Homo sapiens: one gene and its partners. The protein of the gene in region 1 purifies or fractionates together with the protein of each later gene. This does not show direct contact. Each region holds a gene or a part of one and is shown in the gene's direction. Other genes may lie near its edges.

Evidence for each region.
Region 2: the proteins of DOCK2 (region 1) and ELMO2 purify together in Homo sapiens (affinity purification with mass spectrometry, with the first as the bait; one large-scale study listed by BioGRID). This does not show direct contact.
Region 3: the proteins of DOCK2 (region 1) and ABCD3 purify together in Homo sapiens (affinity purification with mass spectrometry, with the first as the bait; one large-scale study listed by BioGRID). This does not show direct contact.

The regions. Positions count from the first base shown.
Region 1 is NC_000005.10:170,074,122-170,077,774, forward strand, and holds part of DOCK2 (dedicator of cytokinesis protein 2), read left to right. Parts: intron 1-1,825; coding exon 1,826-1,963; intron 1,964-3,588; coding exon 3,589-3,653. UniProt on the Homo sapiens protein: Involved in cytoskeletal rearrangements required for lymphocyte migration in response of chemokines. Activates RAC1 and RAC2, but not CDC42, by functioning as a guanine nucleotide exchange factor (GEF), which exchanges bound GDP for free GTP.
Region 2 is NC_000020.11:46,400,081-46,403,733, reverse strand, and holds part of ELMO2 (engulfment and cell motility protein 2), read left to right. Parts: intron 1-3,653. UniProt on the Homo sapiens protein: Involved in cytoskeletal rearrangements required for phagocytosis of apoptotic cells and cell motility. Acts in association with DOCK1 and CRK. Was initially proposed to be required in complex with DOCK1 to activate Rac Rho small GTPases.
Region 3 is NC_000001.11:94,484,332-94,487,984, forward strand, and holds part of ABCD3 (ATP-binding cassette sub-family D member 3), read left to right. Parts: intron 1-3,210; coding exon 3,211-3,280; intron 3,281-3,362; coding exon 3,363-3,460; intron 3,461-3,560; coding exon 3,561-3,652; intron 3,653-3,653. UniProt on the Homo sapiens protein: Broad substrate specificity ATP-dependent transporter of the ATP-binding cassette (ABC) family that catalyzes the transport of long-chain fatty acids (LCFA)-CoA, dicarboxylic acids-CoA, long-branched-chain fatty acids-CoA and bile acids from the cytosol to the peroxisome lumen for beta-oxydation.

The DNA.
Region 1 (3,653 bases):
TTTTTCCATTAGCTTCCTTTTTTATATAAAATCTTTGTCTTTTTCATGAATGAAGGATCTTTTCTGTTCCTATATATTAGTTAAATTTTTTAGAAAAACATGTTTTCTTAGGCTCTCTTTATTCTATTTCTTCCAAATTCATTCTGTTTTTTCTTCCTTTATTCTTTCCTTCTTTTCTTCCTTATTTGCTTTCTTCCCTATCTGTTGGTCTGGTCTCTGTCTTTCCTATTGGAGACTTTCCTCCAGTGTCTGGTGATACTTGGCATTCTCTTCATAGTTAAGAGCAAGGCTAAAGAAAAAGAAAATCTGAGTACAAGAGAGAGGGCCTTGGCAACTGGGTAGCATTGCTGTGTGGCAACGGAATGACCCACAGACGTCTCTCTCTACATGGGACCATTCACATTCTCCAGAGTCAGACCCTTCAAGCTGTTATATAGAAAGATAATCCCAGCTGCTACTCTGCTGGCCATTTGGGAATTGGGAAGTGGAGCTCTCAGGACCCAAATGCAGACTTTCTCTTCAACTTCTTATTTGCAGTCTGGCTTCTGCTTCTGCCTTCTGTTGTGCCTGATGCCCCTAAGCCCAGAGCTCCTTGTTCTAATTGTTCTAGAGGATAAACTCCTCCTTCTTGGGAAAATGGGAAAAAAGAACACTTGGCTGCAGGGTGAGGCAGTCAGGCAATCTAACTGCTCCTGATACAGAACTTCAACACATTCCTCTGTGTTTGGCCCCTCAGCTCACCCGCCTTCTCTGTAGTACCTGGTGCCTCCAATCTCTGAGGCCCTCCTGGCTTCATGTAGGCAGATTGGCTTCTTATCACCACCTCCCTCCTCTGCTCTGGAAGCTCTGGAAGGTCAGTTATGTCCTCCCACCTCCTGGCACACATATTGTGTGGCAGGTTTATGAATGTCTCCAAGTTTCACTGAAGATTTCAGTTTCTCCTTCACCTTGTCATTTCTGGGAGACCTCCAATAGAAGTAAGCAGAAATATCTTTATGTCACCATCATGAAAGCAATTTTTCCCCCAAGTAATTCATAATCTACCCCTTTGCTCCCCTGGTTATGTTTCCCTGAGACCACACAACTAAAGTTCTCAGTTCTCTTTCTGACAGTGCCCACCATGGCTCTGCTACTCTCCCTTAAGGTAGCTGACACTTAGACAGTATCCACTGACCTCCTATGGGGACAAATAAGACTTCAACTCCCTCACATCAATCCTCTCTTCTTCCCTCATCTTCCTAAGGCTTTTATTATCATTTTTCAGAGCTCCCTACTGGGGGGTTAACTTTATGATATTAGCACATTCATATCCTTCTTCAGCAGCTGTATGAAGTGCAATTGGCTCCATGTGGTAAGATGAGGCTATGCCCCCTCCTCTGTTTTCTCTCAGCTCTTGCCTTCCTCTATCTCTCAGCTTCTGACATTCATCCTTTCACTTTAGTATTGCCAAGAACATCTTAGGCAAGGTTTTAAATCAATGCAACAGAGATTCCCCTCCTCTGATCCCCACACTCTGCCCCCAAGTAGATTCTTTAAGGGGGCAATTTTCCCAACCATGTGGCCTTTCATGGGGAAGAGGGGAGTCCAGCCCTCCTATGAGGCAAGGGAAGCTGGGGGTCTTTCTCTCCTTTCCAGAGCAAACCTCATGTTTGCAACTTTCCCCATTTCCCATGGCTGGGGACCGTGTGTGCAGGTTTCTGAGGACCCTGAAGCCCTTGATGAATTCTTAGCAGGCAGACTTGACTGCAGCTGCCTTGATGGGCGGGGTGCCAGGCTGAGGCCCACCGGTCAGCCTCTGGCTCATTCTTTACCACTTTCTCTCCAGATCCCCTTCTTGGGAGCTGGGATTAAGATCCATGAGAAAAGGGTGTCAGATAACTTGCGACCCTTCCATGACCGGATGGAGGAATGTTTCAAGAACCTGAAAATGAAGGTGGAGAAGGAGTACGGTGTCCGAGAGATGGTATGGGTGGTTCCTATGGCTTGGAGGGGTGGGATTGTGCAGGGTGGGGCAGGGAAGCATGCTGGAGGCTGAAGTTGGAGGGGATCCAGCAAAGGAAGCTGCTTCCAAAGAGAAGATAATGATGGCCAGCATTGCTGGATCCCATCCAGGGGAACCCTCCTGGAAACTTGGTCCAGCAAAAGTAACCCCCAGACAAACTCCAGTTACAACTGGATTGTGCAGATACCAACTACTCAAGGGACTGTGTAATAATAATGAAAGCTACACTGATGCAGCATCTACTATGTGCCAGGCCTGATTCAAGCACTTGACATCTACTAGGTCATTTAATCCTCACCACAAGCCTGAGAGGCAGGAAAGATTTTTAATCCTTTGTATTTCTTCTGAGGTTCAGAAGGTCAGGCAACTTGCCAGAGGCTATGTGGCAAATGAATGTGGGGCAGAATTTGCATCTGGCTCTGTTAGTTTAAGGCCAGTGATTTTGACCGCTGAGCTCCTTGGCCTAAAGAGGCCATGAGCCTGGTGCTTACGGGGTGCTTCTTCATCCTTTTCCTTATTAACTGGTGTTATAAAATGTCAAGGCCATGCAATTCCTTTAAAACCATCTGGTCCAGCCTTCCCATTTTACAGATGGTAAAACTGAGACCCAGAGAAGAAAAGTGAATTACTGGAAGAACCTACAGATGCACTCAGGTCTCTTGATTCAAAGATTTTTTTCCATGAGGCAGTTTGTCACTTTCAATACTCCCTACATGAAGTCCCTGTAATGCAATTCTGGTGCTAACTCCCTGGAGTTAGGTCACATTTCACAGGTTAGAAGCACAGTCTTAGACACTTCCCACTTCAAACACCAACCATAAGCTTCAGGGACCCAGGCCACCCACACTTCTGCCTAACTGGTTACAAACTGGGAGATTCCCACTACCCCATCAGGTTTCATAATTCACTAGAATAATTCACAGAACTCAGGAAAGCATGATACTTATGATTTCAGTTTATGATACAAATCAAGACCAGCCAGGTAAAGAGACACAGAGTGAGGTCCAGGAGGGTCCCAAACATGAAGTTTCCACGTATTCCAGATGCATCCCCCTTCTGGCACATTGATGTATGATTACCAGCCAGAGAAGTTCACTAGAGCCTAATGTCCAGAGTTTTTATTGGGGTTTTATTATGTAGTCATGATAGATTGAACCATTGGCCATGTGATGGAAATCAGTCTCTGGGCCTGTCCACTCCCTGGAGGTTGAGCTGATACCACATGGCTTAAAGCCCCAGCCCAGCCCTATAATCATAGAGCTGGTCTTTCTGGCCATCAGGAGCCATCTTATTAGCATAAAATCAAGTATGGTCAAGGGGGCCACCATGAATAATAACAAGGATACTACTATCACATAGGAAATTCCAAAGTTTTAGATATTACCTTCCAGGAACCAGGAGTAAAGGTCATCCACATTCTTCATTCTACAAGAACGCCCTAGCCTCAGCCAGCCAGGAACTTTTGTGCTGATGCTCCACTCAGCCCCACAACTCTGCCCTGCCTAGGTGGAGGAAGAAGGTGACAGGAAGGCTGGGGCCACCTTCCCCAGGCTACAGCTGCTAACCACCCTGTTCTCCCACCACAGCCTGACTTTGACGACAGGAGAGTGGGCCGTCCCAGGTCTATGCTGCGCTCATACAGACAGATGTC
Region 2 (3,653 bases), on another chromosome or scaffold:
TGGTGATTGGGCGGTGTATGTCATAGCCTTCATCTTCAGGATGCTTCAGGTATACTTGGAAAGACAAGACTGGATCACATAAAATGACTAGATGGTATGCAAGGCATCATGAGGTGTAATGAAGAGCCAGAATCAGTATGGGCTGGAGGCTGCAAAGTGGCTGTCTTGGCCAAGCTGCATGATGTGTTTTTAAAAATGTTGGATTTAAACTCCTCTAGGCAAGGTGGTACTTTGCAGTGTTACAGACCCTACATGGAGGCTGCTTGTTTTATTTACTTACCTGCTTGGCTGCCCAAGACATTTGAATTTATAACCCTATTAGGCATGCTATGCTGGTTTCATGTGAGTCACTAGAAAATATTTGTTGAGCACTTCTTATTTGCCAGGCATTGTATTAGCTGCTGCTTTGGAACTGATCATAACATTTTCCAAAGTTCTTCCACTGGGAAATAGTAATAATAATAGTGGAACACCAACAAATGCTTTGCCTTTTGTATTGACTTTCCTCCCGGACTGCCTTCACATATGCTCTCTTATTTTGTCAACAATACACAACATACCTGCCTAGCAGGTAGGGCTTACTGTGTTGGGGAAACGTGGTTTCAGAGCTTTTGCAGTTTCTTCAGGTTCACACGGTTAGAATTCTGCTATTATGCTTAGTGCTTTATTATCCCACTTGATGCTCACAACAGCTTTACGGGGTAGAGTTGATGCTAATCCCCATTTTACAGGTAAGAAAATCGTTAGTGCTAAGATCCAAGTTCAGGCCTTTCCCACTCCAGAACACAGCTCCTAACTTGTTAAGCTACACTTCCTCACTAGAAGGCCAAAGTTGGAAGAAAGCTCAAAAACATCTAGTCCAGCCCCCGATGTAGATCAGGACCTGAGGTCCAGAAAGGCTTGTGTTTGTGGCAAAGCTGTGCTGCAGGAGGAGGACTAAACCAGAAGTGGGGGCCTAGGCCTTCTTTTGTCCCTAACTGGTGGCATGGCCTTGCCAGCTTCTCTGGACTTCAGTTCCCTTATTTATGTAATGAAAGGGCTTGGCCTGATTTTACACTGAGAACAATGCTGTGCTGTTATGGTCAGTATTGAAGGAGTTCACAGCCCGAGATTTTAGTTGTAACCCAGGACTCTTCCCAGCACACCACACTCCCTCCCTACCCAAGCTCCATCTCCTTGTGCAATCACGGTTTTCTAAAGTTTAATTCTGAAGTTCATCTGTATTTTCCATCTCAGTTTCTGTTTCCTCTCATTTCCAAAAACTGAGGTAAGTGGTTTGTAAACACTGACTTTTTGTAAATTCATCTCTTCAGTCATTGTGGTTAGGGATTTGGAAAGTTCTAGGCAATTAATAATCCTCAGTCAGTAGTGTTTTCACTCTCTTCTGAAGGCATTTAGGTCTGGAGGCACCCTGGAGGGAATTTTCCTGTGGAATTCTGTGGACACAGCTATGTGGCAGGCAGTGTGCTGCAAACTGGGGGAAGAGTAGATGGGGGAATAGACTTAGGCTTCATGAGTCCTTGCCCTCAGGTTGTCAACTCTCCTGGAGCTGTGGGTCAACCCTGAGCATCTGAGAGTTTATAAATGACCTGGGGTGTGTGTTGATGGTGCACAACCAGAGTTGAGAACCACTGTTTCTCGGACCTTATCTGATCTAGAGCCTATGTCCCAGACTTGAACATGCACTTGAACCACCTCAGGATCTTGTTTGAAGGCAGATTCTGATTGGGTGGGTCTGGGCTCCCAGGGATACTGCCGCTGCTGGTATGCACATCACACCTATCGTAGCCAGGGAAGAGACTGCACATAGAGAATTATAAATCAGTAGGATCAGGAAGGTATGTACAGAAGACTGGGATCACAGATGAGGCTGCAATTAATTTTCCCTGAGGTGAGAGGATTAGGAAAGCCACATAGAAGAGTGATTATCTTAGCTGGGCCTTGAAGGTTGAGTTGAAGTTTGCCAGCTGGACAAGGAAGAGGAAATAATAGCACAAGCAAACATACAGACTCAGAAGAGCATGGTTTTTCAGGGAACAGGTGGTCTGGTGAGAACATGGCATCTGCAAAAGCGAATCTGAAAGCCAGTTCCACCACAGAGCCACGGTGGAACTGGAGTAAGTTGAATGCTCTGCTAAGGAGCTTACTTAAGCACTATTCTTTAAGTATAGGAACACTACAGAAGGTGTCTGTGCAGGATAAGAGAAGACCCAGGCCATTCTTACAGCAGGAATCAAGATGAAGAAACCCAAATAGTTCCCCTGCCCCCACACCCCTTCTCACCACACCTTTGCCTCTATGTAAGTTTGTGGCTTTTTACCATGTGTGAATGAGTCCTGTGTCTAACATACTTCAACAAAAAGGGGAAACCTCAGCTGCTGTTGGTATGGTGGTCCTTCCCAGGGCTTCCAGCAGTAAACATAAGAACCTTAATCTCTGCCAGTCAAATCCTCCCTTTTCTGTACCTCAGAGTCTGATCGTCATTCAGTGGACTGAACTAAGGGAAGTTGAATCACTTCTCAGATGAGAAGATTTCAGAGGGGGAAGCCTTTATAGAGATTGTGTTCTCGATTAGAAAGGGCGTGACTCCAACTTGCCTTCTTGATGAGGTTGCATTCTGTTGCAGGAAACATAAACCAAACTTACCCATGCCTCCTTCACCAAATCAAAAGCCAAATAACTGAACAAAAAGTACACATCCGTTCTTATCCTGAAAGGAATAGGGGGAAGGAGGGGAGCTGGAAACCTGGCATTCTTCATCCCAAATTCCTTACTAATAGGAGGAGATCATCTTTCACTTCATTCCTTAAGATTCGGTTTCCAATCCTGCTCTCAGAATCCAGCTCCGTGAAGCAGCAGTCACTGCATGGGTGATTGATAAAGCTCCATGGGGCTTCTGTAACAGTGCTGATTTTATAAGCACACCTTCTAGAAGCCACTTAGAGACTGCTCCATTGGAGACACTAATGTTCCTATTTTTCTCTACTTTTCCCAGCTCTGTGTTTGAAAAACTGGCCTTTCATTCTTATGACTTATAGTAAAATTGTCATCAGGTCAGTGTGTGCCTGTCTCCTGTTTTGTAGCATTTTGAGTTTTCCAAATCATCCTTATATCTGTAATGCTTAAAGAGGAGTGGAAGGTAGAAGGGTGGGGAGTTGTTTAATCCGGAAGGGGCCCTCTGGGCCTGGATATGGAACTACAGCTCCCTTATGCTGGTGGTTTGCAATTGAGCTACAGTACTGCTGAGTGGCGGAGCAAGAGGCTATTTATAACCCTGAGAATTTTGCAATGTTACTGAATTCCTTTGACCTAATTTCTACTTCCTTTCTAGAATGAAAATGAAGGGAGTAAGCAAACACGTGCTGGAAGGGTTCCCTATAAGGAGATCCTTTATCCTGGGAATATTATCTGGAGAACAGAATTATTTCTAGTCTCCTATCTCCTGATGTTTCTTTTCGATAGGGAGAAAAGCAGAGGGAGGTTTTCCTCTTTCTTTCAACTAGAGTTAGGGGTGCTAACCCTGATTTTTCAGTAAGACTTATTCTAATGTTTGATATGAAAACAACAGTTTTTTATTTTATTTTTATTTTTTAATAGAGACAGGATCTCACTTTGTCACCCAGGCTAGAGTTCAGTGACATGATCATAGTTCA
Region 3 (3,653 bases), on another chromosome or scaffold:
GCACACATACGTTTATTGTGGCACTATTCACAATAGCAAAGACTTGGAACCAACCCGAATGTCCATCAGTGATAGACTGGACAAAGAAAATGTGGCACATATACACCATGGAATACTATGCAGCCATAAAAATTATGAGTTCATGTCCTTTGTGGGGACATGGATGCAGCTGGCAACCATCATTCTGAGCAAACTGTTGCAAGGACGGAAAACCAAACACTGCATGTTCTCACTCATAGGTGGGAATTGAACAATGAGAACACCTGGACCCAGGGTGGGGAACACCACACACCGGGGCCTGTTGTGGGGTGGGGGCCTGGGGGAGGGATAGCATTAGGAGATATACCTAATGTAAATGACGACTTAATGAGTGCAGCACACCAACATGGCAAATGCATGCATATGTAACAAACCTGCACGTTGTGCACATGTACCCTAGAACTTAAAGTATAATCAAAAACATAAAAAAAAAATTAAGTGTATTTTTACAGAGGTTGCTTAGGAGCCTTATTTAGTGATTCCCACAGAAAGAATTTGTTCCTGAAGCATTCATGAAAATACAATAAAGATTATTATGTAAAGCAAGAGTCAGCAAACTTTTTCCATAAAGGGCAAGATAGTATGTATATATTTTAGGCTTTTCATACCACACAGTGTCTTGCAACTATTCAGCTCCGCTACTCAAGAGTAGCTATATATAATACATGAATGAGTGGGTGTGGCTATGTTCTAATAAAACTTTACTTAAAAAAACAAGTAGCAGGCTAGATTTGGACTATGGGTCAGAGTTTACTGGCTTTTTGTTTTAAAGAATATAAGCATTGTTTCTTGTGAAAGCTTTACTTCAGTTTTTATTTAATTGCCACTTGGAAAATTTGAATTCAAGTACTTTTATTCCATTATTTATTCAAAAGATATTGAATGCCGTCTAGTTGCCTGTGCTCACTCCAGGTGCTAAGGATGATGGTGGTGGACATGATGGATAAAATCTTGCCTTTAAGGAGCTTACATTTTAGTGGAAGTCTGAAGTTTGTGAAATTAAATGTATATTTTAGATGAGTTAAAGAGGTTAAAGAAATTGTCATTTTAAATTATTTCAGAAATTGGATTTTTGCCTCGTCGGTATTTAACATGGCAGAACTTTTAGAGTGCTCACTGGTAGAATGCATTTAAGGTAATTTTTCAGGGGCCTGCAGTTCACCAGTTTGCTCTCCACACGGCTTGCTTATTCTCATCCTTTAGATTTTCAGCCCAAATGTTAACACCTTATTGAAGCTTTGTCTTCTCTGATCAGCCTATTTGAAATGGCCTCCAACAGTTACTTCTTGTTTTAATCATCATCTTTCCTTAAAAGTATATATATATTTGCAGTCAACCCTCTGCATCTGTGGGTTCCAAATCCATGGATTCAACCACACAGATTGAAAATATTCAGAAAAAGAAATTGTGTCTGTACTTATGTACACATATTTTTTTCTTGTCATTATTCTCTGAACAATACAGACATTAGTGTAATAGCTATTTACATTGTATTAAGTTTTATAAGTAATTTAGAGATGACTTAAAGTGTTTGGGATGAGCCAGTTGCGGTGGCTCACCCCTGTAATCCCAGCACTTTGGGAGGCTGAGGCGGGCAGATCAGTTGAGGTCAGGAGTTCGAGACCAGCCTGACCAACATGGCAAAACCCCATCTCTACTAAAAATACAAAAATTAGCCGGTTGTTGTGGCGGGGGCCTATAATCCCAGCTACTCGGGAGGCTGAGGCAGGAGAATCACTGGAACCCAGGAGGCGGAGGTTGCATTGAGCCAAGATGGCACCACTGCACTCCAGCCTTGGCGACAGAGTGAGACTCTGTCTCAAAAAGTAAATAAAGTGTATGGGATGTCGTACTCAGGTATATGCAAATACTATGCCATTTTTCATCAGGGACTTGAGCATCCATGGATTTTGGTATCCAGAAGGTCCTGGAACCAATCCCATCCCCTTTGGATACCGAGGGATGACTGTATTACAGTCTCTAATTATCTTGTTTACTAGTTATGCTCTTTCATTAGAATGTAAACTCCATAAATTCAGGGACCTTCTCTGTTCTATTCATTGTATCTCCAGCTTGAGCACAGTGTCTGACACATGGTAGTCATTGAATAAATGTTCCAGAGATTGTCTAGTTGCAGAAGATACCAAGTTGTTAACAAGCTACCCTGTACTCAGGAAGCCACATTTTAGTGGAGCAGACAATAAATAAACAACTAGATGTTCTGTATAATTTCAGGTAGTAATGAATTCGGTGGCCAAAAATGAAGCAGGATAAAGGGATAGATATGAAGGGGGCTATTGCCCAGCTACTTTAGCTGGAATGGCCAAGATCTTTCTTGAGGAGGTGACATTTAGTCAGAAATCCACATGAAAGTGAAGGAGTCACAAAATATAGATACCTTAGAAGAATGTATTCCTGGCAGTGAGAAGAGCAAGAGGAAATCCTTAAGAAGGTACATGTTTGAGAAACCGTTATTTCTGGAGCTTGGTGAGGAGGAGCAAAGTAGAAGCATATGACCTTAAAAATAGAGCTCAGTGCCAGATCATGCAGGACCTTGAATAATCTGGTAGATGGACAGTTTGAGAACACTACAACTCCAGAATAAAAAAGCAGTTTTAGACTTGTAGTTTTAAGACAATGCGTGCTCATGTTAAAGCTAAAACTGAGGCTGTGTGGCACTGATTTACATTAGCACTCAGTTCAGATTGGGTGTAATACAATTCTTAGATAAAGCACAGACCATGTGTCTCCACTGAAAGCAAAGCATTCAGTGCCAATCCGGACAGCTAGTGTTTCACTCAAACTAGTTAATCTCTGTTCTTTTTGCTTTCGTTGTTGTCCTCTTTTGGGATATGTGTATCCAAAAGCATGGTGACTACAATAGCATTGTGCTATTGCATGCAAGAGAAACAGCATTGTTAAAATTGTTTATGTAATTTCCATGCTGTTTGCATAAAAATGGTTTCATGAAGTGTTTGTTTGGCACCCGCTCTGTGAAGAGCATTGTCCTCGGTGGTGTGATGTACAATATAAACAGAATATAAACAGAAATCACGGGCACTCAGTAAATATTTGTTGAATAAATGAACTATACAGTTTGTTTTATCCTTATAGTAGATTCAGTTTTTTATACAGAGAAAAAGATGGTTTTTTGTTTTTGTTTTCTGCCAGGTGGAACACCTACATAATTTCATTTTGTTTCGGTTTTCAATGGGCTTCATTGATAGTATTATTGCCAAATGTAAGTATATTTTGAAAGAGATGAGATTTGTGGAAAAGGTGAAATACTGTTACTGTTTTAAATCTTACCTGTTTGGTTTCAGACCTTGCCACTGTTGTTGGTTACCTAGTTGTCAGTCGCCCTTTCTTAGATTTGTCTCATCCTCGACATCTCAAGAGTACACATTCGGAACTTCTAGAGGTAAACTGATGATAATACAATGAAAATGTAACAGTAAAAATAAAGCCAAATTTTTAGTCATAGAACTATAAGTAAAAACTAATATTTATTTCTATTTAAGGATTACTACCAAAGTGGAAGAATGCTTTTGCGAATGTCTCAAGCTCTGGGTCGAATAGTTTTGGCTGGGCGTGAAATGACTAGATTGGCCGGG